Linked DNA regions of Homo sapiens. The gene in region 2 interacts genetically with the main gene of each other region. Each region holds a gene or a part of one and is shown on either strand. Other genes may lie near its edges. The genes, in order: TRNAU1AP and APOOL.

Evidence for each region.
Region 1: changes in APOOL (region 2) and TRNAU1AP together harm fitness more than expected from each alone (negative genetic interaction), as found in Homo sapiens cells (one large-scale study listed by BioGRID).

What each region holds. Positions count from the first base shown.
Region 1 is NC_000001.11:28,559,539-28,563,360, reverse strand, and holds part of TRNAU1AP (tRNA selenocysteine 1-associated protein 1), read right to left. Parts: intron 2,729-3,822; coding exon 2,629-2,728; intron 2,249-2,628; exon of another isoform or gene 2,101-2,248; intron 2,016-2,100; coding exon 1,963-2,015; intron 1-1,962. UniProt on the Homo sapiens protein: Involved in the early steps of selenocysteine biosynthesis and tRNA(Sec) charging to the later steps resulting in the cotranslational incorporation of selenocysteine into selenoproteins. Stabilizes the SECISBP2, EEFSEC and tRNA(Sec) complex.
Region 2 is NC_000023.11:85,006,807-85,010,628, reverse strand, and holds part of APOOL (MICOS complex subunit MIC27 precursor), read right to left. Parts: intron 1-3,822. UniProt on the Homo sapiens protein: Component of the MICOS complex, a large protein complex of the mitochondrial inner membrane that plays crucial roles in the maintenance of crista junctions, inner membrane architecture, and formation of contact sites to the outer membrane.

The DNA.
Region 1 (3,822 bases), on a different chromosome or scaffold from region 2:
GGTCAGGCTGGCCTCAAACTCCTGACCTTGTGATCTGCCCGTCTCAGCCTCCCAAAGTGCTGGGATTACAGGCGTGAGCCACCGCACCCGGCCTACCTTTGTTATTATCTTATTTCAGGTATGATTATACATATTATACATATTCCTTGTATAATAAGAATACACAAGGCCAGGCGCAGTGGCTCATGCCTGTAATCCCAGCACTTTGGGAGACCGAAGCAGGTGGATCACAAGGTCAAGAGTTCAAAACCAGCCTGACCAAGATGGTGAAACCCCATCTCTACTAAAAATATAAAAATTAGCTGGGCGCATTGGCAGGTGCCTGTAATCCCAGCTACTTGGGAGGCTGAGGCAGGAGAATTGCTTGGACCCAGGCGGCAAAGATTGCAGTGAGCCAAGATCATGCCACTGCACTCCAGCTTGGGCAACAGAGTGAGACTCCATCTCAAAAAAAAAAAAAAAAGAATACACAAAAGCACAGTCCAGGCACGATGGCTCACGCCTGTAATCCCAGCACTTCGGGAGGCTGAGGTGGGCAGATCACGAGGTCAGGAGATCGAGACCATCCTGGCTAACACGGTGAAACCCTGTCTCTACTAAAAATACAAAAAATTTAGCCAGGCGTGGTGGCAGGCACCTGTAGTCCCAGCTACTCGGGAGGGTGAGGCAGGAGAACGGCATGAACCCGGGAGGCGGAGCTTGCAGTGAGCAGAGATCGTGCCACTGCACGCCAGCCTGGGCAACAGAGTGAGACTCCGTCTCCAAAAAAAAAAAAACACAAAAGTGCAAAGAAAAATAAAATTGCTATAACTCAACCACTTGAAGACAATCACAATAAATGCTTTGATATGTATACTTTTGTCTTTTCTTGTGGCTTTTCTTCTAAATGTTCATAAATACGATCCATCGTATTTTGTTTCTAGTATTTTTTTTCATTTTCAACATATTGCCAATATCTTGACATGTCAGTATACTGCAATGACTTGTCAGTGGATACACCGCATCCTAACTAATGACCATAATTTAATCACTTCCCTACTATTAGGTTATTTGGGTTTTCCCCAACTTTAGCTATTATACACAATACTTCAATGAATACATCTGAGGCTAATCTTTGCACACGTCCATGAATAAATACTGAAAAGTAGAATTATAGGGTTAATGCATATAAATGTTTTTTAAGCTTTTGGTACACCGTTTTAATGCTTTCAAATGGCAACCTGAAATTCCAATCAATTTATGTTGCTATAACAGGTCAATTCATTGGGTTTCTTTTTTAAGACAGGGTCTCACTCTGTTGCCCAGGCTGGAGTGCAGTGGCACGATCATGGCTCACAGTAGCCTTGATCATTGTAGCCCTCCCTGGGCTCAGGTGAGCCTCCTGCCTCAGCCTCCTGAGTAGCTGGGACTACAGGCGCCTGCCACCACGCCCGGCTAATTTGTTGTATTTTTAGTAGAGACGGGGTTTCACCGTGTTAGCCAGGATGGTCTCGATCTCCTGACCTCGTGATCCGCCCGCCTTGGCCTCCCAAAGTGCTGGGATTATAGGAGTGAGCCACCACACCCGGCCATTTTTGTATTTTTTTGTAGAGACAGGGTTTTGCCATGTTGCCCAGGCTATTCTTGAACTCCTAGGCTCAGGCAATCTGCCTGTTTCGGCCTCCCAAAGTGCTGGGATTACAGGCGTAAGCCACTGCACCTGGCTAACAAGGCAATTCTTATTGAATAAAACTTCAATACTGTGAGGAGTAGCAGGGTAGGAAGCCAGGGGCAGGGACCAAATACAGAAAAGCCAGGGTCTTGCATGAAGCACACCAGGAAGGTCCACCAGCAAGGAAGGGAGAAGAGCGTCGTCCTTCAGGAGGGAACCAAGTGCAGCCAAACCGGCTCCCCTCCTCCTATATGGCAGTGACAGGCACAGTGACACATCTTATGTCTGTCTAGACATGACTTTGTACCTACCTGTTATCTGGTTGTTTCCCGTAAGTGGCATAGTTCAGTTTAAAACGTTTCGCCTGGAAGTTGAAAAACAAACAAACTAAAACAGAGAAAGGTGTTTCAAGAGTTGAACAATATTTGAAGAAAACTGAAATAAATTACCTTGGCCAAAACATCTCCCCCTCTCTAAGCCTCAGCTTTTTCTCCTGTATAAAATGAGGGGGTTGCACGGATGACCGCTAAGGGCACTGCCAGCTCCATGGTTCTATGAGCCCAGGTGTGCCAGCTGGTGCAGCTGTAAGCTAAGTAACTGTGGGAAGAGCAGAATGCAACTCTCTTGAAATGTGTCCTTGCTGCTGCCAGCCTATTCTAGTTTCCCAATCAGGCAAGAGGTCTAGAGTTTCAAGTCTTCGGTTATGGGAGGCAGCAATGCAGAATGGAAAGGCATGGATTTGGGAGGCAACCAATCTTCAGTCTGAATCCTGGCTCTGCCATTTACTACCTGTGTTGCCTTGGACAAGTTATTTCAATTCCCTGAGCTTCAGTTTCCTGGGCCTACAAAGATAACAATGCCTACTGTAAAGGGTTGTTTTAGGATTAAATAAAATAAGTATACAGTAGGGATTCAATAGATGGTAGTAAGCAATGACAATAATAATGGCAACATCATCATTATCTAAATGTCCTTACAGGTGTGGCTCCTGGAAGGGGTTTCCCATTAATTTTATGCAAACACTTCTCAGCTGTGGCCAAATCTGCAAATTCTACAAAGCAGTAGCCAGCTGGGATCCTGGAAAAAAAGCAAATAGAGAAAGAAAATGGTTAAAGATAAAATGGCTCAAGATGAGGCCAGGCGTGATGGCTCACGCATATAATCCCAACAGTTTGGGAGGCCAAGGCAGGTGGATCACTGAAGGTCAGGAGACCAGCCTGGACAACATGCTGAAACACCATCTCTACTAAAAATACAAAAATTGGCTGGGCATGGCGGCGCACACCTGTAGTCCCAGCTTACTCGGGAGACTGAGGGGGAGAATTGCTGTAACCCAGGAGGTGGAGGTTGCAGTGAGCTGAGATCATGCCACACTGCTCCAGCCTGAGCAACAGGCTGGTTTGAGACTGTTTTAAAAAAAAAAAAAAAAAGGCTCAAGATGGGTCTTGGCCTTGAAGGGAGAAAGAAATGTTTTTCTAATCTGAGCCAACACTGTTTTTGTTCCCTGCCATACCCCAGCTCAGACCTAATTTACAAGCCTGAATATAAGGATTGTCCATCTGGGCCAGTCCAAGATTCGTTTATCTGTATTTATTTATTTATTTATGAGACGGATATCATCTCGATCTCAGCTCACTATAACCTCTGCCTCTCAGGTTCAAGCAATTATCCTGCCTCAGCCTCATGAACACTTGGAATTACAGGTACCCACCACCATGCCTGGCTAATTTTTGTATTTTTAGTAGAGATGGGATTTTGCCATGTTGGCCAGGCTGATCTTGAACTCCTGACCTCAGGAGATCCACCCACTTCGGCCTCCCAAAGTTCCGGGATTACAGGCATGAGCCAAGGCACCTGGCCCCAGACTCATTTAGTAAACATTCATTTATGCATTTTATCATGTGTGAATACTCTTGTCAAAATTGTATTATGCAATCCCATCAAGACTTTAGATCTAATAACCAGTTCCAGGAAATTTTAGAGATAGACTATGCAAAACACCACAAGTAAACAAATGAATGCAGAATGTATGATCTGTTTTTTTTTTCTGAGACCGAGTTTTGCTCTTGTTGCCCAGGCTGGAGTGCAATGACGCAATCTTGGCTCACTGCAACCTCCACCTCCTGGGTTCAAGCGATTCTCCTGCCTCCACCTCCCAGATTCAAGCGATT
Region 2 (3,822 bases):
AAGTGAAGTAACTCAGGTATTGAAAACCAACTATCATGTTTTCACTAATAAGTGGGGGCTAAGCTATCAGGATGCAAAGGCATAAAATTAAGATAATGCACTTTGGGGACTTGGGAATACTGGGAGGGGGTAAGGGACAAAATACTGCACACTGGAGACAGTGTAAACTGCTCAGGTGACAGGTGCACCAAAATCTCAGAAATCACCACTAAAGAACTCACCCATTTAACCTAAAACCACCTGTTCCTGAAAATCTATTAAAATTTTTTTTAAATGGGCAAAATATCTGAACAGATACTTCATCAAAGATACACAGATGACAAATAAGCGTATGAAAAGATGCTTAACAGCATATCATTGGAGAATTACAAATTAAAACAACAATGATATACCACTGTATACCTACTAGCAGGGTGAAAATCTGAAACATTGACGACGGTAAATGCTGGGGAGAACATGGAGAAACAGGAAGTCTCATTCATTGCTAGTAGGAATGCAAAATGATACAGCCACTTAGAAGGGTAGCTTGACAGCACTATTCACAATAGCAAAGATATGGAATCAACCCAAATGTTCACCAATAACAGATTGGATTAAAAAAATTGGTACATATACACCATGGAATACTATGCAGCCATAAAAAGAAATGAGATCATGTCTTTTGCATGAACATGGATGGAGCTGTAGGCTATTATCCTTAGCAAGTAAACGCAGGAACAGAAAACCAAATACCACATGTTCTTACTTATAAGTGGGAGCTAAATGATGAGAACTTAAATGATGAGAACTTACAAACACAAAGAAGGAAACCACAGACACCTGAGGGTAATGGGTGGGAGCAAGGAGAGGAGCAGAAAAGACAACTACTGGGTAATGAGCTTAACAGCTGGGTGATGAAATAATCTGCACAACAAATGCCCATGATACGAGTTTACCTGTGTAACAAATCTTCACATGTACACCTGAACCTAAAATAGAAGTTGAAAAAAAAAGTAAATAAATAAATAAAAGTAAAAGGCTCATTCACCATGATCAGTAAGTTTTATCCCAGAGATGCAAGGATGGTTCAACATATCCAAATCAATAAACATGATACACCACATTAATAGAATGAAAGACAAAAACAACATGATCATTTCAATGAATGTGGAAAAAGCATTTGGCAAAATTCAACATCCTTTTGTGATAAAAACTCTCAACAAATTAATTATCCAAGATATGTACCTCAACATAATAAAAGCCATATATGATAAGGCCACAACTAATATCATACCCAATGGTGAAAAGCTAAAAGCTTTTCCTCTAAGATCAGGAACAAGTCTCTTGCCACTTTTATTTAACATAGCACTGGAAGTTCTAGTCAAAGCAATCAGGCAAGAGAAAGAAATGAAAGACATACAAATTGGAAAAGAAGAAGTAAAATTGTCTCTTCTCCCAGATTACATGATATTATACATAGAAGATCTTAAATACGCCACCAAAAAACTGTTAGAACTAATAAATAAACTCAGGGAACTGCAGCATACAAAGTCAACATACAAAAAAGCAGTTACATTTCTATACACTATCGAAGATGATCTACCCAAAAAAGAAAGAAAGAAAGCAATCCCATTTAAAATAGCATCAGAAAGAATAAAACACTTAAGAATAAACTTAACCCAAGAGGTCAAAGAGCTGTATATTGAAAACTATCAAACCATAATGGAAAAAATTGAAGATACAAATGAATGGCAAGATATCCTATGTTCATGAATTGGAAGAATTAATGTTGTTAAAATATCCATACTACCCAAAGCAATCCACAGATTCAATTCTAGTGGCATTTTTCACAGACATAGAAAAAATAAACAATTGCAAAATTTGTATGGAATCACAAAAGACTCTGAATAGCCAAAGTAGGTGTACAACCAAAGCAAATGAAATCAGCAATTGCAAAGATATCTGCACTCCCATATTCACTGCAGTATTATTCACAACAGCCAAAACATGAAAACAACCTAAGTGTCTAATCGAAGTGTCTGCCAACAGATCAACGGATGAAGAAACTGTGGTATACACACACACACACACACACACACACACACACACACACAACGGGTTATCATTCAACCATAAAAAAAAGAAAGAAATCCTGTCATTTACAACAACATGGATAACCCTCAAGGGTATTATGCTGAGTGAAGTAAGTCAGACAGAGAAAGACAAACTGCCTGATTTTATTTGTACGTGGAATTTTGAGAAGTTGAACTCACTGAACTAGAGAATAGAATGCTGGTTCCCACAGGCAAAGGTAAAGGAAAGGCGAGAGGTTGGGAGGTTGGCCAAAGGGCACAAACTTTCAATGACAGGTAAGTTCAAGGGATATAATACACAGCATGGTGAAGTGATACATATAAACTAATTTGATTCTGGTAATCATTCCACAAAATATATGTATATCAAATCATCACACTGCACACCTTAAAATCAAACCATTTTATTTATCAGTTATACCTCAATAAAGCTGGGGAAAAAAAGAAAAAAAAATACATAAACCCAGAGGGTCTTATAGCTACCTATTCCCTGGGGACATCTTGAATTTACCATTCCCTAGAACGTCTTAATAGCTAAAATCATAAATTCAGCAAGTTTTTCTCTGAGTGCAACCTCCTATCATTACAGTTTCGATTTCCTTACTGATCTATTTCAGTTCTTACAGGTAAAGTTACCTACCTTAGAAGACTTTTAGTGAGAATTAAATGAAATAATGAGTATCAACAGCTTAGCGCAGTACCTGATACACAGTAAGTCCTCAATAAATCATAGACAAATTTTGATTTTAAGTATGCATTAAAAACAAATTATCTGCCAATACCCAAATTGTCTTCAAACTCACTCTCAACCTCTGGCATTAAATGAAACTTGGCTTTTATTTGACACTACTATTATACATTCCTCCCAATCCACTTAATTGAAGGCCAGACCCCCAGGAATTCCCCGATTCCAGAAGACCCGAGAGATCAGCACAGTCCTTGCTTCTCAAGCACCATGATCTCCACAAATCTTAGCCATTTCTAACACAGTTACCCTACTTTGCAATTATTAGAAATCGTTTCACCTTCAAGATCCTAAATGCTTGAAATTTCCCTCATTAAAATAGAATGCTCTTTCAACTCTCCTACTCTTTTTGAACTAGTTCTTCTTTCTCACTATGGCCATAAATCTTCTAGTACCCTAGTCCATCACTTCAATCTTCTTCTTTGTCTCCTTATCCACAGTGGATGACTATTTGGATAAATTCCCTAGATCTTCTATCATTCTCACTTTGACAACACTCAGCATTGGAGCAACCCCACTGTCTCCTCTTCCCCTCCTATGCTGTGAGCACTGCTGGAGAAAGTCACTACTAGAGCCAACATTAGCCAGGCCCTCACTTCTCAGCAATTATTAATATTTTATTCAATGTCTACTGATACTTTACTGAATTTCCTAAAGCACCTTTTCCAAGCCTATCCCATTCTTAAACTCCTAAAGGCATATTTTCCTCTCAGCAGATGACCTTCCACCCAGAAGATACAGACCTCCAATGTGAGCTCCCTCCTCTACCTCCTCCGTTCTTCAAAATCACTTGGTATCTTCACCTTCTATCTCGACCAACTCTGGCCTTTGAAGCAAAGTGTGTCTCCTCTTTGCAAGGTTAATCCCTCCACTTGTTCTCTTGATTTTACCACTTTCTTACAAAGTATGGTTAAGAGTCCAGGTTCAGGACTCATACCATGTGATTTCAGATCCAGCTCTACCACTTTACTCCTGTGTGACCTTGGAGTTACTTGACCTTTTTAA